Linked DNA regions of Homo sapiens: region 1 is linked to region 2. The links come from fine-mapping of genetic effects on gene expression. A gene starts in region 2. The other region holds a variant in brackets. All regions are shown on one strand. Distances are from middle to middle.

Region 1 (11,403 bases), 40 kb after region 2:
TCTTCCGTGAAACCAGTCCCTGGTGCCAAAAGGTTGGAGACCGCTGCTGTAGACCTAACTCCAAAATTGGGGGGTGTGGACAAGATGGTCTTAAAGACCTCTACTAACCACAGTGTCTCCGGATTTTATTATCTGGCTTAAATGATGAGTCCCAATTGTAAGACAGTCTGCGTCTAGGGAAGAGAGGGGAACCACAGACAGTTAAGACTGGAAATGTTGGTGAGAAATCTCAAAATATTTCGCTGGTGGACAAGAAAGAAACTGGTATGCTAGAGAACTATACATCTCCCCCAGTTAGATGACTACAGATAAAGCAGCCCAACAGCAGTGGCATGATATCTTCATACAGTCATTGCTGGAGATGCAGCTAAAGATGATTCCATTAGTTATGTCAGAAGACTTAGTTAGAGACTCAGATACATACCCAATATCTATAGTGACAAAAAGATGCTTAAGGGTAGGGAATCTAACTAATCATATTTAATATTAGGGTCCCTTTAAAAAGGAAAATACTGCATTAGAGTTTAAAACACAATTCTGGGCCAGGCGTTGTGGCTCATGCCTCTAATCCCAGCACTTTGGGAAGCCAAGGTGGGTGGATCACTTGAGGCAGGAGTTTGAGACCAGCCTGGCCAACATGGTGAAACCCCATCTCTACTAAAAAATACACAAAAAATTAGCTAGGTGTGGTGGCACATGCCTGTAATCCCAGCTACTCGGGAGGCTGAGGAATGAGAATCCTTGGAACCTGGGAGGCAGAGGTTGCAGTAAGCCAAAATCGTACCACTGAACCACAGCCTGAGCAACAGAGTGAGACTCTGCCTCAAAAACAAATAAATAATCTAAATAAATAAAACACGATCCTGAAGTAAATTTAAAAAGCCAATATATATCCCCTTATGTTCATACAGTCATTGCTGGAGATGTAGCTGAAGATGATTCAGTCAGTAATAAGTCAGAAGACATAGGAGATACAGATAAAAAACAAGGTCTTGACACACATAAAATAATATTCTGGTTTTTTTTTTTTGTACGTGTGTGTGTGTGTGTGTGTGTGTGTGTGTGTGTGACAAAGTATATACATAAAATGCTATTATAAGACACTGCTATGGCCTGAACTGTGTTCCTCCCACCAATATTCATATATTGAAGCCTTAACCCCCAATGTGATGTATTTGGAGACAGGGCCTTTGAATGATAACTAGCTTTAGATGAGGTCATGAGAGTGGTGCCCTCATAATGGGTTTTAGATTTTATATCTATATATTAATAGACGCTACCATACCTAAGAAATTATGTTATAACATTATATGAAGTACTGTTGGATCATAACTCAAAACACATAAATGAAAGGTGGAAATAATTAATGGAAGCAATGTTCCCCATCGCTGTTTTTCTCCAAGTGTAGCAGCATCAGCATTAACTGAGAACTTACTCAAAATGCAAATTCTTGGGCCCCATCCAGAATCAGAAACTCTGGTGTTGGGGCCTAGCAATCTGTTTTAACAAGTCTTCCAGGTTATAATGATGCAAGCAAGTTTGAGAATCATTACCCTCTGGTATAGGGCACTAAGGGTTTGGAGGTGAGATTTTGTGCTTGCTACCTGATAGTTTGCCTCTTCTACACAAACCAAAACTGGGGAGGAGGAGATCACCAAGCCCCCAAGCTGAAGTATATCTGTTAAAAAGACCTTGTACCTAGTCTGTCAGTCCAAAGCTTCATATAACTTCACAAAGTGTAAAGCTCAATGTTAATTTAACAAACTAGTTAATCAAATTTCCTATACTCCTGGCAAACTTATTTCTCTGGTTTATCAGACAGGACAGATTCTTAGGTTTCCATAGGCATCACAGCTATGGCCTTTGTCATTAAGAGTTAAAAATCAAATTATGCCAGGTGCAGTTGGCACATGCCTATAATCCCAGCTTCTTGGGATGCTAAGATTGAAGCATGACTTAAGCCCAGGAGTTTGAATCCAGCCTGGGCAACACAGCAAGAACCCATCTCTAAAAATAAAAAATAAAATTTTAAAAAATAAGAAAATCAGATTACTGCATTGTTTAATAAGGAAAAAAGATTTCCATCTAAAAAGTTAAGAGCTTTAGTATTCAGAAGATTTTAGCTTGTTAGTCCTCTGGAAAACTTACTTAAGTACAACCTCAAGATAATTTTTTACATGTAGAAGAAAAAGATTAAGTCAAAAGTACAAGTTTTTTTTTTTGTTTGGCATGTTTGCATGCCAAATATGAAATATTTGGAATATATTTAGAAAATGTGAAACAGGACAAATGCATAGTCATCCTAGAGATTATATTATTTTAAACTGTCACATGAAAATTCAAAGCAAAGATATAAACCCACAAGGATCTCAGCAGCTAAATACGTAAGAAAAAAACTTAAACAGGCAAGGATTTTAGGTACACCTGCAATATATACCTACTGATTCACAAATTGCCACTCCGCTCTTAGGAAGAATGTAATAGAACGTAGTATTGAGGTATAAAAATATGAATTATTTATCTTCAGGGAAAAAAATTCACATGAAATAGTCTTTCTTTAAAACAACAACAAAGTGATGGGTATTTACATGTAAAAACAGAGGTCACTTCATTTTTATTTTTTGTATTTCACTGATGAATTTTTGAAATTGGAGTTGCTATTATTAATAATAGCTCCATATTGTTAACTTTGATATCTGGCCAAAAAACCAGTCCCCCAAAAGTATTCTCTTTCCTATCTTAAATGTATGCTATAAGCCATAAGCTTTTCTTTACTTCAAATGAAAATCCAGCTACAGCTGTAGACCCCTTGGATTCTGAGTATCTAGAGTGGTTCCCAATTTGGAACTTCTGAAGGTTTTGATCTAGCAGGTTGGAGTCAGTTCAGGCACCCGTATTTTTAGACGGTTCTCAAGCATAGCCAGCACTGGAAACCGTAGCTAGGTTATCATGCTCAGACCAGCAGAGGACTGATTCACACAGAAGTTTCAATTTGATTCCATTCAGGGAAGAAAAATTTGCTAATGCCGATAGATTATCACTTAAAAATTAATGACTAATGGAATATGAAGGAAATCAATCACGGAGAAGAATCATAGACTGCTCAGGCTATTCCTATTATGTTAAGTAAAAAGAAGTGGCCCATGAAAATTGAATAAACTAGATCTTTGGATCTAAAACATATTTTATTTTTCTCCCTGGTCTGAAGCATAAGCGAGAGAGGATAAAAGGAATCAAGAAGTTATCAAAGGAGAAAGGACTCTGCCAAAAGAGAAAATTTGTGTTTGACAATCTTATCACCTACCTGTCTCTTCTGAGTAGGAGAAACAAAATTGACTTAATTCCGCTCCAATATCAGCTGCCATTTATATGAGCTGGTATGCCTTATTATCTATGTATTCCCGCAAGCCACTGCTTTCTGGTATAGGACAGTCACAGTTAAACCTATTTTAGGTCAGAGGGGTGGAGTCAAGCATACTTAAATAAGCATAGAAGTTTCATGGTAGTAAAATATATCCTATTAGAGGAGGTCACGCTGATCTTCAGCCTAAAAATCACAAGTGAAATACCTCAATGTTCATCTAAGAATAACCCTAGAAATGCCCATTTTTCTTTTGGTTGTAGCAAAACATATTTCCAAAATTCAAAAAGTTCACAATGAGATGGCCAGCAGGGGGCATTAAGGAATCTACTGTTACCATCTCAAAGGGTACGCTAAGAATTATGTTTTCTTCTAATTCATTTATCTCTTCCAAAAGAAAGAAATTGGAAGTAATTTTCCTTAAACCTGGAATATTTAAACACTTTTGTATATTTTACATGCATTATAATTTGTATAATCTTAGCAGTAAAATTATTACATAAATTAATGCACTTTAGTCATATGAAACACAATACTGAGAACTTTTCATTTTAATCCAATAGTACATCCAGATAGAGAAGAACTTATTACTAAAACTTCAGAAAACCGAAGACTTACAAATGTGAAAAAAGAAAGCTCAGACATAGGTATGCTGCTAATCTTAAATACAGGCAACTTGTTTATTATGAAGTCATGATTTTTCTAATTTGTACTGTTGGTAATATTTTAATAAACTTTTAAGAAGCTGTGGCATAATAAAGAATATATCTAGTTTTGGTCTCCTGTTCCTGGCACAAAGCATCAACAACCTTTGGAACTTCCAGAGACAGAGGCATCTTTGTTGTGTTAATGAGGCTACTCTAGGTGGGTTCCCAGATAGCTTCAGGATAGGGGGTAGTCACCGAAAAAGACCGACCATGTGATGAGGGTTGGAGCTTTGTGCCAGTGTGACCTCCATGAAGGAGAGTGGGGCTGGAGGTTGAGTTCCATCTTGCAGCCAATGACTTAATCAATCACATCATAAAAACTCTGGCTTAGAGGAAGATTTGGAAGCTCCGTACAATGCAGTTCATGTTTCCTTAGTTCCTTTATAACTTCCCACAGACATCACTGCATTAACCTCTACACTTGACTTGTCTTTACTTTTCTATTCTCAAACCTCAGCAACTTTTCTGAGATGTGATTTACATACAATCAAATTCACCCAACTAAAGCGTATAACTGTGGTTTTTAGTATATCCACAGTTATACAATAATCACCAGTATCCCATTTTAGAACATTTTGATCACCCCACAAAGAAATCCCGTATCTGCCAGGCACGGTGGCTAACGCCTGTAATCCCAACACTGTGGGAGGCCAAGGCAGGCAGAACACGAGGTCAAGAGATCAAGACCATCCTGGCCAACATGGTGAAACCCCATCTCTACTAAAAATACAAAAATTAGCTGGGCGTGGTGGCCGCGCACCTGTGGTCTCAGCTACTCGGGAGGCTGAGGCAGGAGAATCACTTGAACCCAGGAGGCGGAGGTTGCAGTGAGCCGTGGTCACACCACTGCACTCCAGCCTGGGCGACTGAGCAAGACTCTGTCTCAAAAAAAAAAAAGAAAGAAACCCCATATCCATCAGTAGTTTAACTGCTTGACCACACCTCTGTAACCCCTGACAACCACTAACCAACTTTCTGTTTCTAAGAATTTGCCTATTCTGGACATGAGTGGTACCCTCCAATATACATTTTTGTGTCTGGCTTCTTTTGTTTCACGGTTCATCCACGTTGTAGCATATATCAGTATTTCATTCCTTTTTATGGCTGAATAATATTCCAATTTACAGATATACCATATTTTGTTTTCCCACTTATCAACTGACAGACATTTGGGTCACTGCCATTTTCTGGCTCCTATGAATACTGTTGCTATGAACATTCTGGTACAATTTTTTTCCCATTTTGGTAAAATATACATAAAATATTTACCATTATACCCATAAGTACGTTCACGTTGTTGTGCAAACATCACCACTCTCCATCTCCAGAGCTTTTTCATCATTCCAAACTGAAACTTCTGTAGCCATTAAACAATAACTCCTCCATCCCAACTC[T/G]CCTTAGCCTGTGGTGACCACTATTCTCCTTTCCATCTTTGTGAATTTGACTATTCTAGGTACCTCATATAAGTGGAATCATACAATATTCGTCCATTTGTGCCTGGCTTATTTCACTTATAATATCTTTAGGGCTCCTCCATGTTGTAGCATTTATCAGAATTTCCTTCATTTTAATATTCCATTGTATGGATACACCATTTTGTTTATTCATCCATCGATGGTTATCTGGGTTGTTTCTGCCTTTCGGCTATTATCAATAACTCTGCTATGAATGTGGATGTATAAATATCTGCTTGAGTCCCTGCTTTCAATTCTTTTGGGTATATACCCAGAAGCGAAATTGTTGATCATATGGTAATTTGTGTTTAATTTTTTTAGGACCTGCAGTACTGTTTTTCCACAGCATGTATATGTTTTTATGTGAACATGTTTTCAGTTCTTCTGGGTTTATATGTAGGAGTGGAATTGCTTGGTCATATGGCATATGCTGAAAGTTTCTGAGGAACTACCTGTTTTCCACCATGACTTCACCATTTTACATTTCTATCACCATCTTTTAAAAATTATATCCAACAAGAGTGATTTAAACACATTTTCAAATTTCCATGAGGCACTAGGCATGGTGGTAGGCACCTGTAGTGCCAGCTACTTGGGAGGCTGAGGCAGGAGGATCGCTTGAGCTCAGGAGGTCCACGCCAGCCTCGGCAACATAGTGAGACCCTGTCTCTTAAAAAAAAAAAAAAAAAATTCATAAGGCTGAAAAATTATTCAGAATTAAAACCTAGGAGAATTTAAGATGAGAGGAACTCACTGTTAGAAAGCATTGTGGAGTATGCCTTCCCCCTGTCACCCCCTGCTGCACATCATCACCCCAAAATAATACTGGGTCCACTGCAGGGTCTAAATTGGTAAATTTTAAATGTCATTTTGATATATGAAGTCTAACAGAGAAGATCTCTATTGTGTATTACCTAAAATGCTTCCTTATACCTGAGTTGGTAGAGAATACAGTAGAGAAAGAAGGAAAATGTCTATGCCCACTTCTCACTAAAAGAAATTTAGTAAACACTGGGACTTTCCATATTCACAAATATCCAGTGAAGATCACCTATGATGAAAAGCAGCTAAATTTTCTCACTAATAATGAGAACAGTCTGTCTTATAATTTTTAGAATATACTGTTTGAATATGGACACAAAATTTCTTTTGACTCATATTGAAGTTATTATTGTATTCTTGGTACTTTATGCCATCACAGTTGCTTTAAGTGAATGATAATCAAATACAAGATTTATCTATGTTTGAATAATTATAAATCATGTTGATTTGTAGGTAATCCTTTAGAAGATGCTAAAAGTCATTTACAGATTATAACAGTGAGTAACACAGAGGCCGGAAAATACTGGTGTGACAGTGAGGTCAGAGCATTGATATGGTCTGATGAAAAAATTAAGCGAATGCTTGAAGGGGCCACAAGAAACAAGAAAATATTTGAGGAAATTGCCAGAAGATTAATTAATGCAGTTTGGGATAGACAGAGACCGGAAACAATGTCATACGAAATATAAAAATGTAAAATATGAATATAGCATTTTACAAAGAAAAAATGGCAACCCTCCAAGAAAAATGAGATTTTATGAAGAAGTTGACTGCATCCTAAGAAAACCAACTCTCAGAACTGCCAAATGGAGACATGGTAACTTTGGAATTGACATTAACAAAAAAAATTCTAGACATTCCTCTTTGCATTTTCATTTAGCAAGAGAAAAACTCTTTAAAAATGAAATCCTTACACTATTGTATGCTCAAATGACCCTTAAAAATCATTAAAAATAGGTACCTAATTTAAGCCAAGAGTTTCAACTTTTTTCTAAACCTTGTACCAAAATATTCCTAATTCTTAACTCATTCTTTATTTGTCCATCTGCTTAAGTTTTCTTATTTTAGTATACCTGAATGCTTGAAAACCATTAATGTGTTTCAAATGATGTCACATAATGATTCTTTTCCTGTGTTTTTATTTAAGAATTATTTGAAGGTCACAACAAAAGCCAAGGAACTTTGAGCTTCAAGAGAAAAGCACATGAAGATGGTAAGAGCCAGAGAAATAACAAGTTCTTCCACACAGTGGAAACAACTTGTTGCTTTTTCCTGATAACAGAGATATTTATTCCTGTCCTTGATAAATTAGACTAAATATATTGTTTATGAACTGTATTAGAGCAGAGAATGCTGAGAAATAATTTATTTCATAGCTCACTGAGTGAAAGTTCCTGCAGGAGCTAGAGTTTATATTTTAAAAGAAGAAGAAAGAAAAAAGAGTGAGAGTAACACTGAAAGTAAATGAAAACTTGCCCGGAGTTAGGTAACTGTTTGGTTATCATGGTCCTTTAAATTGTACTTTACAGTGATTGTTGCAATTATTGTTATCAGATGTAAAAAGAAAAAAATCCACAGTTCTTCAAAGGTAGTCAATAATCAATATAACATTTTAATAAGTCTGAAAGTCAAACTCAGAAGCCAACCTAATAATGGGAGCTGTAATTCCAAAATGACCCATCACAGACATCAGAAAAGATAATATAATGCAATATAGCATGTAGAAGAAAGAAAATGCACATAAGACTAATAAGAAAACCTGAGCTCCAGTCTCTCTTTGACCCTAATTCCTAAACACAGAGCAAATCACTGCATCTCTCTGGATCTCTAAAATAATCCAGCTTTAATGCCTTATAGATTTATAATTTATGAGATTGTTTTTTAGTTAACACAAAAAATTGAAGAGTAAAACAAAATTTTACAAAGTAGACACACCAAATCCACCATTCAGGACATAAAACTTACTAGCACCCTAAAAGCCTCCCAGTCATTAATCATCCTTCCGCCCCCATAAACATTATCACTATTCTCACTTCTATCACCATAGATTAGTTTGGGATTCATACTATATGTACTTTTCTTTCATTCAACATTGTTTATGAGATTCACCCATGACTTTACTCACAACAGTAGTCTGTTATTTTTTATTACTGTAGAATAGTCCATTGTAAAAATATACATCCCAGCCAGGTGCAGTGGCTCAGGTCTATAATTCCAGCACTGCCTTGGAGGCCAAGGCAGGAGGATCACTTGAACTCAGGAGTTCAAGACCAGTCTGGGCAACATAGTGAAACCCCCCATCTCAATATTTACTTAATAAATAAACGTATATCCCATTACTTTTTAAAATCTATTTCACTGTTGGACATTTCAGCTGTTTCCAGATTGGGGCTTTTTTGAAAAATTGCATGTCTCTCAATGGACATATGTATGCATTTCTGTTGAATACATACCCAGAAGTGGAAGGCAGGGTCATAGGGCATGCATATATCCAAGCACTGTTCTAAGCACTTTACATATATTAACATATTTAGTCCCAATCACAATCCTATAAGGTAGGTGCTATTATTATACCCAATGTACAGATGAGGAAACTGAGGCATAGAGAAGTCTACGCTCCTGAACCAATAAGGTCTCTGCGAGGGCAGGGACCACATCTGCCCTGTATGGTAAAGTATTCCCAGTGTCTACCACAGTGCCTTAGTAATATACTTAGATGTACATTATTCCTATTTGTTGAGCTTCTGCTCAACAAATACATTTTGAATAAAGTATTAGCAAATAGCAAGAATTCCTTTTCCCCTTATAACCTTTTATCTCAAGTGAACTGAAAAGTGTATTTTTCTATGTCTGGATATAAATGCAAGTCAGATAAAACTCTTGTGCGGTTAACCCTTAGCAGTTTCTCCTTTCAGGTTAAACTGCTAAGGGTTAACCGCACAAGAGTATCATTCTGAACCCACTGAATTTGAACATTAGACCTTACAATATATAAGTCTAGGCCAACAGATGAGGAAACAGACTCAGAAGTTAGAAGACTTGCCCAAGATTAAACTGATGTTACTGGAAAACCTGGGGCTAGATTTCAGTTTGTATGTTAAGGAGCTCTTCCCAATATTGACCAGAATGACCAAGCAGTGGTACTTGGAGACTTTTGGGGGCAGGTAAATTCTGCTTCAGACTAATGCAAAAAGCTAAGTTCTAAAAAAAAAAGTTATAAATGGAAGGATTGAAAACACTTATTTTAAAGCAAGAATCACTGAATTATAAAATAACTAAAATCAAAGACTGGAACAATTTGCAAGGACACTTAAAATAAGTCACTCCCTCAAACCAAAATTTACTTGACTCAGATAAAGGTTATAGATTATGGGAGTATAAAAGTTAAACACTATAGGAATGTTACATATTTGATCATTTTCAGTCAAATATGAAAATCAAAATTAAGTAAGATATTCCCTGCCTTAATTTGGCAGCCCAAAGTAAGTTCTCTGACAATCAAATCCTGTGTTCTCCACAAAACTAAATGAAGATTAACTGGGAACTAGATCCATATAAGTCTGACTGAGTGCATCTCTCATTCTCACAAGTGCCTTTCCAGTGGTAATGTTCTGTACTCTGTTTGCAGAACCAGTGTCTAAATCTCTTAAGAAAAGTGCTCCTGAGATCATTACAAATCAGTTTCCTCAAAGCGTAATAACAGAACCAAAAGATTCTACAGAATGTTTCTGCAGACAGAAAACCCAACTTCATCAGGTAAATCTTATAAATTTTTAGAAGTATGAAAATGTTTGTCATTGTAAGGTTCAATTCCTAACCAGGAGAAGTGATAATTCATTGAATGGAAGGGCATGGTTATCTCCTAATCAAGGAAAGGCTAATTAGCTGATTCATGGCATAAATCTACAGACATTTACTAATTCCTTTTATGGAATCTTCAAATATGTCCAGGCCATTCTAGTCTCCATAAAATGTGACTGTGTTTTAAAGATGAAAATGTTTATTCTAAGAAGGGGTGTCTGGTTTGTTCAGAACTCCGCAAACTACTGAAATGATGTTTTCAGGACCAAAACAGCATTTGGTGATTATATAAATCAGGCATGAACATACCCACACACATGCATGCACAGTTTACAGCTAAGAGGACATGTGAAAATTCCCCTACAGAAAGCAGAGCTACGGAATAAATCTGAAGACAGCCAGAACTACTAAAAACGGGGAGTACATCTGGATGAACCCATCTGGGTTAAATATCCAGTGCATGACTGGCTTAACTAATTGATACTCTATTTATTTTTATATGAAATGGCTAATATACCTTCCAGGTATTCTGTTAACCCCAGGACTAAATGTTTCAGATTAGATTATACCCAAGACAAAAAACTGGACCAAATACAAAACAAAAGTGATAGAAATCTCACCTTCTAGATTCCATCTTCTTAAAGATAAGGTTGGCCAGGCATGGTGGCTCACGCCTGTAATCTCAGCACTTTGGGAGACCGAAGAGGGTGGATCACTTGAGGCCAGGAGTTCAAGACCAGCCTGGTCAACATGGTGAAACCCCGTCTCTGCTAAAAATACAAAAATTACCTGAGTGTGGTGGCGGGCGCCTGTAATCCCAGCTACTCGGGAGACAGGTACGAGAATCACTTGAACTTGGGAAACGGAGGTTGCAATGAGCCCAGATCATACCACTCCACTCCAGCCTAGGTGACAGAGTGAGACCCTGTCTCAAAAAAAAAAAAAAAAAAGGGAGGCCAAGGCGGGCAGATCACGAGGTCAGGAGATCGAGACCATCCTGGCTAACACAGTGAAACCCCGTTTCTACTAAAAATACAAAAAATTAGCCGGGCGTGGTGGGGGGCGCCTGTAGTCCCAGCTACTCGGGAGGCTGAGGCAGGAGAATGGCGTGAACCCGGGAGGCGGAGCTTGCAGTGAGGGGAGACTGCGCCACTGAACTCCACCCCAGCCTGGGAGACAGCGAGACTCTGTCTCAAAAAAAAAAAAAAAATCAAGAAGATAATATATAAGAAATAAATTCCTTCATCAAAAAGGAAAA
Region 2 (11,403 bases):
AAAAAAAAACCCTTTGAGTCTCTAGAAAGTCCCCCATATACCTCAAGTTCTTGACACTTCTCACACACACACACACACACACACACACAGTTGGGGGGGGTGAAAGCAGGGAATGCATTTAAGTTACCCCAATACAAACTGGCTCATATAGAAAATGGGCAAAAACAGGCTAAATTGAATATATTTTTATAATGTTCTTCCCCTTTAGTAAAACAATATTTTATAAATAATAAATAAACAATGAAGCATGGGCTGCATCTTGCTGAAGATATAACACCAATTCTTGCCCCAAAAACAGAGTTTCTTGGTTATATCTTTGGTTGGCAATCATTTAAAAATAAAAAAACAATAAATTTACTTTTCTGGAAAGATCTCCTCTAAGTACCAGTCTCTTTTTCAAAATGCAAGCTTAGTTATAATTCTTCAGTGTTGCTGACCAATGTAATTGCCATAAATATGAAAGTTCCAAGTATTATAAAATTTTGCAGTATAGGAAATACTTTGGAAAGAGAAATTCAAAACAATGCATAATATATTATTATAAGGCTAACAGATCTGTTCATACTACAGAATAGTGGCTCACAATGGAGTGTGAGGGGTGGAGAGCCCCTCTGGGGGACAATTGGCAATGTCTGGAGATTTTTGGTTGTTATGACTGGGAGGTGCTACTGAGGTCTAGCGAGTGGAGGTCAAATATATTGCTAAATATCCTATAATATACGGAACACTCCTCACAACAATTACTCAACCCTAAAAATGTCATAGTGCAAAGACTGAGAAACCTTGCCACATTTAGCAGACTTAGGAATCCAGATGGGAGAAGGAAGGAATGTTTCAATTGAAATAAATGTAATACAGGCAAAAAACAATTGAAACATCCAGACTTACATTAATTTGTTTTTTTTCAACAAGGATATACTTTAGATTACATTTTTTCATAAAATGAGTTGATAATGACGGTGGTGAATCTGGCTCGATAGGTACATAAGCAGCCGGGACTTGGAGAATTCTAAAGAAAAAAGTACACAGTCAGCATAGAATGTCTGTTGATTTAGTATTTGTTTAAGCATTTCTATTTCTCTATGCACTTTATTTATTTTTTGTAGCAGCATAAAAATGGTTTCCGGAGCACTTTATTGCTGATCAGAAATTTCCAATGTTTTCACTGACACATAGTTGGTAATAAACGCTGTCATTTTAGCCGGGCACGGTGGCTCACGCCTGTAATCCCAGCACTTTGGGAGGTTGAGGCGAGCGAATCACCTGAGGTCGGGAGTTGGAGACCAGCCTGACCAACATGGAGAAACCCTGTCTCTACTAAAAATACAAAATCAGCCGGGCGTCTGCAATCCCAGCTACTTGGGAGGTTGAAGCAGGAGAATTGCTTGAACCCGGGAGGCGGAGGTTGCGGTGAGCCGAGATCACGCCGTTGCACTCCAGCCTGGGCAATAAGAGTGAAACTTCATCTCAAAAATAAATAAATACATAAACACTGTCATTTTATCTTTTCTTAATGAAAATCCTGAGTATTTACTATGTTAAATTCTTATCACTTAATATAGAGAAATACAAGATTTTTTTAAAGTTAAGCATTTTAAGTAGTTTCAGGTATACTTTAAGGACACTAGATCTTTGCACATAGTAAATTCTCAATAAATTTCGTCAATAATTGAGTGAAAGTAAATTTTTGTTGTTGTTTTTATTTGTTTTATAGAGATGGGGTCTTGTGAAGTCACCAGGGTGGTCTCGAACTCCTGGCCTTAAATAATACTCCAGCCTCAGCCTCTCAAAGTGCTGGGATTTACAGGTGTGAGCCACTGTGCCTGGCCAAAAGTAAATTTTTGAACATCTTTTGCTTTATATTTATATAATTAATTTACTAAGACACATATTATAGAATGAATAAACTATTTCTTTGGCAGTTTATACTTACTGCAGAGTTCTAGAATAGAAATCACTATATGAGGATAACATTCTAGAACAATTTAAATGATTGAACATTTTGCAAATATTTGTTGGAATAGTGTCTTCTAATGGGTTCATATTTCAATCTATATCAACTATTATCCAAAACTCTAATTTACTGATTTATTGAATACCTTAGTGCCTCAAATTTCAGTTGCGGACAAAAAACATAGTCATGTTATCTGTGAAATCCTGTTTTCTTTTATCTAACAACAAAGTGTTATAAATTGTTATAATTGTTTTCCTTTAACAGATTAATGAAGCCCTTACATTTTGGAGATACTTATACGTTCTATTAGTGAAAGCTTCTAGTCTTTCCTAAATAAGCTCAGAATAATTAATTTAAATAATATAAAAATAATACTGGGGAAATGCAAACTTCTTTAGTCTCTCTACAATTGACCAAACAATATAGAAAAGTCCAATAGTAAACAGAACAATAACTTGCAATATACTCTATTAAAAATTTACATTAGCTTGGAGTAACATCAAATTTACAGTTCTAAAAAATATTACCCTAAAATCCAAGAGGGTAAGTCTATCCCAGGTTGGCAGTAGAGACCAATTTCCCGAATTCCTTGAAAGTCACAGTGTAACAGCAGAAAATTTGATAATTCAGAAGCAGCATTAACCACAGTCTTGTAGGTGTAGTAAACTGGAAGCTGGTTGTTGCATTCATCAAAACATACAGCTACTCTGTCCATATAACAGGAGGCAGCCTTATGCACCAATTCCTGAAGAGTCATTTCACTGAAGTTTATCTAAACATCAATTTGTAGCACAGAACCCTGTGTATATACAGAAGTGTTAGGGGGAGAGGGAGTTTTAGAGAGCTCGGTGGAGGGACAGGGAAAAACTTCTCTACAATAATATCTCACAAAAATAATTATATCAAAGATATATAAATGAAGAATCTCTGAACTTATGAAATTATGGTAACTTTACTGAGGACAATGAGGTTGAAAATTAACTTGATACATCAACCTATGCTGGGTCAGAGCATCAAAAAAATTTGGGAGGGCAGTGGTATACACAGATGAAAATGAAGCAGGTAAAAATGGAGACTTCTCTCTCAACGGACCACAATGTAAATATGAAATATATAAAAAATTAATCAATAAAATCAAATTTAAAGGACCCCACACTTAATTTTTTTTTACTTTCCTTCAGTAACTGTTACAGATTTGTTAAGATAGAGTAGTCAAAATCTTGTATGGTGACTTTAAAATTACTAATGTGGCCGGGTGCGGTGGCTCACACCTGTAATCCCAGCACTTCGGGAGGCCGAGGTGGGTGGATCACTTGAGGTCAGGAGTTCAAGATCAGCCTGGCCAACATGGTGAAACCCTGTCTCTACTAAAAATACAAAAATTAGCCGGGCAAGGTGGCATACACCTGTAATCCCAGCTACTCTGGAGGGTGAGGCAGGCGAATCACTTGAACCCAGGAGGCAGAGGTTGCAGTGAGCCAAGACGGCACCACTGCACTCCAGCCTGGGTGACAGGGCAAGACCCCATCTCAAAATAAATAAGTAAATGAAATAAAGATAAAATAAAATGACTAATGTAAATAAACTTTGCTTTTAAATTCCAGTAGGAGCTAAACTCAGATGAAAGCAAAATCAATCTTTGACAGAAGAAAGCAAAAAACCCTATTCCTATTCATTCAGTTCTAGACAACTATATATAAAAACAGTGTTTATTACTATACTATTAATATTTTACAGAAGTCATACTTGTATAATTGTCAAGAAGTAAACTCTTCATACTGTATAGTTTATTTTTAAATTGCCAATAAGTTCACTTAGACTGAAAATATAATATTACAACTCAATAAAGCAGTATATCAATGCAATGTTCTCTGGGTTTCTTAATGCAGATTATATTAAAAGATTCGAAACAGTATTTCAAGAAAGAAACACTCGGGATCAACGGTAAAAAAAATTCACAGTGTTTCCTTAAAGGTGAAAGTTATTTTTTTCCCTCTCTGAACTCTGTTTTCCATATTTTAAAGCAATTAAGACTTACCAAGTAGCCTGCTTCAGTAAAGTTTTTGTTTGTTTTTGTGACAGTCTCGCTCTGTTCCCCAGGCTGGAATGCAATGGCGTGATCTCGGCTCACTGCAACCTCTGCCTCCCAGATTCAAGCGATTCTCCCACCTCAAGCTCCCGAGTAGCTGGGATTACAAGTGCGCGCTACCATGTCCAACTAATTTTTGTTTTTGTTATTTTTTTTTAAGTAGACACAGGGTTTCTCCATGTTGGCCAGGTTGGTTTTGAACTCCTGACCTAAGTGATCCACCTACCTTGGCCTCCCAAAATGTTAGGATTACAGGCGGAGCCACCGCGCCCGGCCGAGTCAAGTTTTCTTTTCTTTCTTTTTTTTTTTTTAATTTATTCACACCTATTTGAATTGATTTCCTGACTCAAAATTTTCATTTATATCAACTAATTAACATCAATTAGGAAAAAGAAATCCTAAAGAGAGTAAAATGAACCAATAACTGCCAAGACCCATAAGTTTGAAAATGCTGTGATTTCTAAATATACAGTTTAAACATATAAGGCAACTTTAGTACTTACATTATTTATTTTTAGTAGGCATTTCTATAAATATTAGCTCTTTTTAATGCACAAGATACAATTTTAAGCTTTCCTCAGACATACAATGATCATTATGTAAATATAAGGGAGGCTTTCTGCAGCAGGCGCTTAAATTATGAGGAATGAGTTCATTTCGCAACATACAGGTAGCGCAGAAGGGTACCTACACATCTATACGATAATTAAGATGTTTCTTTCCATTTTCCCAATGGTTGCTACAGACATTTAAGGTAAAATCCATTCTTCTTGTCTCAGGTTTTCATTTTCATTCATTGAATCACAAATAACATTCTCTGCAGTAGAGAATACTAAACTTATTAATGCCCAAATGTTTGAGACCTTAAAAAGGAAAAAAAGGCCGGGCGCGGTGGCTCACGCCTGTAATCCCAGCACTTTGGGAGGCCGAGGCGGGTGGATCATGAGGTCAGGAGATCGAGACCATCCTGGCTAACAAGGTGAAACCCCGTCTCTACTAAAAATACAAAAAATTAGCCGGGCGCGGTGGCGGGCGCCTGTAGTCCCAGCTACTCGGGAGGCTGAGGCAGGAGAATGGCGTCAACCCGGGAAGCGGAGCTTGCAGTGAGCCGAGATTGCGCCACTGCAGTCCGCAGTCCGGCCTGGGCGACAGAGCGAGACTCCGTCTCAAAAAAAAAAAAAAAAAAAAAAAGGAAAAAAAAAAGCAAACTCTGGTAAGCAGATTTTACATGTAAAAGGAATAAATTTACTTGCTACAACTGTAGAAGCTGCTATTTAGTCAACAAAGATCTTAAGAGTGTCAGCAAATTCAATTGCTATGGGGCCTCTCTCTAGGCCACTGGCTGTTTTAAAAATGGATAAATAATCTAGAAACTTTATTTTCCCAATTCCCCGGCTTCTAAATTTACGGTATGCAACGAGTAACAATGCAATTTACAGCTTCCTAAACATTTCTTCATTGCTCTTCGAAACCACTCTAGGGGGTAGCTGAGCGCGGAGCACACTTATTTCCATTTGAATGGAGGGGCGGAGGCTAGTGACGCAGGAGTGTACACACAGGTCAGGGTTAGTCTGCACCACACCAGCACGCCAGACCCCGATGTATCAAATCCGAGGTCAGGCAGTGGTCCTGAAGCTGAGCAAATGTATGTGGAAGCAGGCTCAGGCCTAGCGGCACTTCGCCTCCTTCACACAGACCCCCGCCGGACACCGCGCCCTGCCGCGACTCACTTAGCAAGTCTCGCGGATTAGGTTTGATCGCATTCGGCCCTTTCCCGGATAGCTCGTCGCGGATACTTCTCACAGCGAAGCAGCAGCTCCCAGAAGCCGTAAAGCTATCCCAGAGCGAGGCACCATACGTAAATCTTCCGCGTCGCTACGTGACGTCAGTGCGAGCGACCCCGGGCCGGCTGCGTGGAGCTGGCGCTGCCTCTCCTGAAGCCGAGGCGCTAACTTGAGTGAAGAGGTCTATAGGCTTTTTCACTTTTGGTTATCTGCTCAGGCGCTCCTTGGGGTCGCGCATGGTCTCGGACAGGGTTTGCAAGGACTTCGGAGCTAACCAGTTTGGAGCCATAACCCTTTCGTACTTGCCAAAAAACTCTGGGCAAGACTCTTGAATTTTGAGCCGCAGTATTCTCGTTCATAAGGTGAGAATAAAAACATCACCTAGGGTTGATGTGAAGAGAGATGAAATCATTGTGAAATAGGAGAGTTATTGCTTTCAACCAATGACATTTTCTGGAAACGTGCTGGAGATATGGCTGCAGCAGTGACGCCTGCAAACGACGTTCCTGTCATCATGATGCTGACATTTTAATTGGGAAGCAGATTGAAACGATAACTAAGGAATTTGACAGGAGCATTTAGTAGGACCTGTAAAGAAATTAAAGCAGGTCCGAGGTGGAGTTTTGTAAACTATATGCCTGAATAGAACTTTCTGTTTCCAAGGGAATTGTTACAGTTGGAGACATGTCAATTATTACAATAAGCGTCAAGGGCAATAACAGAGGTGTTTTAAAGCTACTGTCTGGTGGCAGAATAATCGGGATTTTTTTGTTTGGGGGGTTTTAGCCGGGGGAGGGACTGCGAAGACAGCTCTGCATCAAAACAGTACGTGAGAAAAAAGCATAGGACGCTCTCGCAGCCGTAGTTGTTGGTGACAAGAAACTGTGCTTCTAATCTAAGCAAAAAATATCTCCACATGCCAACTATACTTTTCCAAGATGTACCATGGACTACTCAAACTAACACAGCCTTATTTATGTATTTAGGTTGGAAGTGGGCAAAAGTGTATCTTGTCTATGTTTCTATGTTTCTACGTTGGGATGACACCATCATCCACCCAGCCAGACAGTTATCAACCTTCCCACTTTCTTAACCTCTTACATCCGATTAGACCCTATGTCCTCTAGTTCTCAGTCTTGAGACCAGCACCCAGCTGGCTACATCAGAATTGCCGGTGGTGATGTTTTAGAAGATTCCAAATTCCTGGACTCCATCCCCGGAGGTTCATCCCCTAGTTTTCTAGTGAGGGGCCTAGAACCTGCGTTTTTTAAGTGTCATGTTCATCGCCATTACTGCTACTTTAGTTCAGGTCTTCTTGGTCAGCTTTTTCCTAAAACGTTTTCAGTTTTGTTTGCCTCTGATTGACTCTGAATTGCTGCCAAAATGATGTTTTATTATTCCAGTATCATCATCCAACTCTCTGATATTAATGATACCTTTTTTAAAGTTTTTCTTCCCTTGCAGTATCTATTTCCCTCAAGTTTCCTTTTTTTTTCTTCTGTTGATTTTGTGCTCTATCTTTCACATTAGAGGCTTTCCTAGGATGTCTGGTGGTCCTTATCTGCTCATATGTAAGTGGGGGTATATTTAAAAGTTGATTGGAAGCTGTTGAGCCCATGGGACGTTTGTTGAAAATCAAGTGGGAGAGGAGGGGTATGGAGGCTGCGGTATGTCTCAGAATTTAGTACAATTTTCACTTAATTCTCTTTGTTTTAGGTGCCTGATGTCCTCCATTACAGAGACCCCGTTTTACTCCTGAGCAATAAAAAAAGGCTTCAGAATAAGGCGGGGGCCGGGGGTGGCATAAAGGATATAACACTCTCCTAAATGAACTTCCAGTCCTTTTAGGTACCCTCTTCACTTCTACTTCCTGAAGCCAGTTTCTTAGTTTTTTAGGGGGTTCTGTGATACAAATAGAATTGCTTGTTGGTTTTGCTCACTGGGGGTTTAGAATTCAGGTTTTTCAAGTCAACTGAGCCCTTTGCTATTGATTCCAGAATTTCATTTCCATTATTCCTTTTCTTTAATCCTTAAGGGTGTATGACTTTAAAAATCCTGTTACTGTCATTTTCAGGGAGTCTTAGGGAGCAAATGTAGAACACTATGTTTAAGACAGCATTTTTACCTGATAATCCAAGGTGATCATTCTAAAACATATACCAGATCAGTCATAGCATTCTTCTATGAGAATAAGAAGCTTCAATGATCCCTCGTTGCCTGCATAACATTCAGACTCTTCAGCAAGGTAAACAAGAGAGTTCATTTTCTTTCCAACCTGATATCTCACAGCAGGCCACTGCTCCCCCACCCATCTTCCACATTCCCCACACCTGATACTGTAAACTCTAGTCATAATGAAAGGCTAGTAAGAGTTCTGAGAATACAAAGTCCTTATCATGTTTCCACACCTGTTTTGGCTGGGCTCAGGCTGAAATACCCTTCTTTCTCCATGCCTGCTTGATGAAAATACAGCTTAAACATGACTTCCTCAGTGATGCCTTTCTTCAAGCCCTAAAGAATAATTTATCCAGACTCCTCCAAACTCCATCCCACGAACCCATCATACTCTTGGGAGGGGTCATTTGTCATGGGACCTGCAAATTCTGGGTTTGCCAAGAATGTAAGGTCCTAACTGCTCTTTACCTAGATCATTTTTCAGGGTTGTTTGGGATGATCAGTTTCATAGCTGAAGTATTCTTCCCAAAGAGTAGGCTTGCTTCCACTTAACTACAAAAGTATGGAATCCCCCAAACTCAGTATTCCTCTCCTATAATGTAACCCACTGACTGCATGTGCAGACATCCATGGAAGCCCATCTTCACCATCCTGGTGGGACTTGGGGGACATGGAAAATGCATAAACATGAAGTTCTGGCTTCTGCTTTTGCCATAAATTACAAAGTTCTTTGTCACCCAGGAATCCAAGTTTACTGCCATAAAACAGTTAACAGGCTATCTTACTAACTTTAAAATAGGTTTCAATACCAGACCCTTCCCAGACAGCGACATATATTTCTTACAGCATCAGTTGTTACTGTTGCTGCATTATTTCCAAATCTGACCTCCTATACTAAATAGCACCCTTATAGCAGGGATTCATGTCTTAGGCGCTTGTTTCCCAAACTATTTTTTTTTTTACTCAGCTCCATCCACTTACACTGTTCCAGTTGCAGGGAAATATCAAATGCCCACCCTGTACCCTGCTGATATTTTGTACCTTGACTGGCACACTCTACTTATTTTAAGGCTTATCTCTCAGTTGTCAATGTCATTGTTTCCTTAAAAAGTTCAAAAATAATTTGGAAAATCCTTGACCCTACCTGAAACAAGGTTAGGTCCTCCTGTTATGTGCTGTTGTACCACATATCACAGTTGGGATAATAAGGCATTGTGTGAGTTACTCTAAGTGTTCAGCTGCTCAGGAGAAGGCAGAGAGCAAATTAGTGGTTGAGTTTTTCAGGCTTGGTGTTTTGACAGGTGTATTAGTCTGTTCTCACATTGCTTTAAGTAAATATCTGAGACTGGGTAATTTATAAAGAAAAGAGGTTTAATTGACTCGGTTCCACATGGCTGGGGAGCCCTCAGGAAACTTAAAATCATGGTGGAAGGCACCTCTTCACAGGGCACGAGGAAAGAATATGTAACTATGGAAGTACACTGGAAGGCCAGGAGTGGTGGTGGCTCACACCTGTAATCCCAGCACTTTGGGAGGCCGAGGCAGGTGGATCACGAGGTCAAGAAATCAAGACCATCCTGGCCAATACAGTGAAACCGTCTCTTTGAAAAATATAAAAATTAATTTGGCATGGTGACACACGCCTGTAGTCCCAGCTACTCTGGAGGCTGAGGCAGGAGAATCACTTGAACCCAGGAGGTGGAGGTTGCAGTGAACCGAGATTGCGCCACTGCACTCCAGCCTGGTGACGAAGTGAGACTCCATCTCAAAAAATAAATAAATAAATAAAAATAAACCTCACTGTTTGTTTTAACAATAACAAGCGTGGTAAGGGTGGTGTCAGTCCATAAGTTAGATAGGCAGTTGCTAGGCAGATGTCGTTGCAGAAGTATGTGTGTGTGTGTGTGTGTTGTGTTTAAGGTTGTGGTGGCCTTTGTGCAGGTTGTAAATTTTTGTAGTCTTTTGATAGTTCTTGTTATCAACCATATGTACATGAGAACCCTTCCCCTTCATGGCGTTTCCTGGCTCCGTTTGCCAGGGTTTTAATACGAGTGACTCCATTTTGAATCTGACAACTTTCACATTTCCCCTTTTGATCAAGGTCTTTCTCAAAAGCATCACTGATCAATCATCCTGTATTTAGGTTTTGATATCTCTTGGTGCCAGTCTGCCCTCATGTTGAAGGGAGTCACTGGTAACTAGGAATTAGCATCAAAACCCTTTAGCCACATTTGAACAACAAAAGAGGTTTGGAGGGAGTGGATCTCAGGCTAAGTCTACCTGGAGTCCACTGTTAAGTTCAATTCTGTCTGTTCCATAGGCACTGTCTATCATCTCAAAGTGCTGGGAGAGCATTATTCTCTTAGGAGTTGCATTTCTATGCAAATTTGACAAGAAACAGGTATAAAGTTCTTAAAAAAAAAAAAAAGAAAATACAAAGTAACAATCTCAGCATAATAGTTTTCAGCCGTGAACCTAGGCTTAAAGACAACCAGTTGAATAAATCAAATGATCATGAAGAATTAGGTGAGACTTATTATACCATGTGGGCTATTTTCTTATTTTGTGTATATAAATTCCCCAAAGGAATGTATCCAGGTACAGCATGTAGTATGAGCAAAAGCACAGACATCTCTTTGTTTAGCTGGTACACAGCAATCCTATTACTTAGCATTCCATGACTGGCTTGAATTAAAGCAGAGAGAGCTAACTCTGTTTTAAAAAAGACCATTAGTACAATTTGAACAAAAAGTTTACTGAGGATGTTGCCAGTATTACCCCCTGGGTGGACTAAAGGATTTATGAAGTCAGATTCTGTCAAGTCACCCACAATATCTACCGATTGTGAAATTATCCTGCCAAATCAAAGAGGTAGGCATAAACAAGGAAGAATTAAGAGGGGCAAGAGTGTCATTAGGATGGGGAGTTATGTTCCATCATCTTGGGAAAAGCTGCCCACAGTATGGAGATGTTAGCTTTTCATTCTGGTTTACAGTTTTAATGTCTCTGGTTATAGCATTGGGCAGTTTTGTGAACCTTTGGGCATGAGATTTCTCCCTTAAAATTCAGTTAAGTTTGAGCTTGGGCTTTAAGAACATAGCAAGTCTCGTTTTTAGTAATTCTATGGAAGAAAGTTGGATTGGAGGAACCTAGAAGAATTAAAGATCCAGTCCAGCGACCAAGGTTTACCTAGTTGCACAGAAATTTTCTTAACACTGGCAGGTGCCCTACTAGTAATCTTTCTTGTCTGTGACCAGTTTATCCTTAACATGGGAGACTTTTTCTTTGGATACCTTCAATATTTTCAGAGTGGTATTTTCAGAGTGGTGCCTTTCACTTAGTTAATATGCATTTATGTTCCTTCTGTCATTTAATGGCTTGATTGCTCATTTCTTTTAAGC

Which allele goes with the higher level. Alleles are on the strand shown, and positions count from the first base shown. SD is a standard deviation of normalised expression in the study named.
With allele T in place of G in region 1, the expression in visceral fat of the gene that starts at base 5,903 in region 2 is higher (small effect, 0.27 SD a copy in GTEx).

The links. PIP is the estimated chance that this variant, and not a neighbour inherited with it, causes the effect. A credible set is the group of variants that fine-mapping cannot tell apart.
Region 1: its variant is the best candidate, but not a certain one, in a credible set for the expression of AASDH in visceral fat (GTEx, PIP 0.50).

What each region holds. Positions count from the first base shown.
Region 1 is chr4:56,421,449-56,432,851 of GRCh38, forward strand. All of the region lies in intron 1 of PPAT (phosphoribosyl pyrophosphate amidotransferase), which reads right to left. It also overlaps a transcript of PAICS not described here. Among named protein-coding and RNA genes, the nearest start is that of PPAT, 8.5 kb to the right of the region's middle. RefSeq lists an enhancer at 3,955-4,640. The variant T/G (reference allele first, on the strand shown) is at 5,463.
Region 2 is chr4:56,381,589-56,392,991 of GRCh38, forward strand. It overlaps AASDH (aminoadipate-semialdehyde dehydrogenase), which reads right to left and starts at 5,903. Exons shown (of 15, transcript NM_181806.4): 1 at 5,774-5,903; 2 at 2,482-2,753; 3 at 889-1,009. The coding sequence starts at 2,711. RefSeq lists enhancers at 5,321-5,828, 5,798-6,167, 5,829-6,335, 6,198-6,247.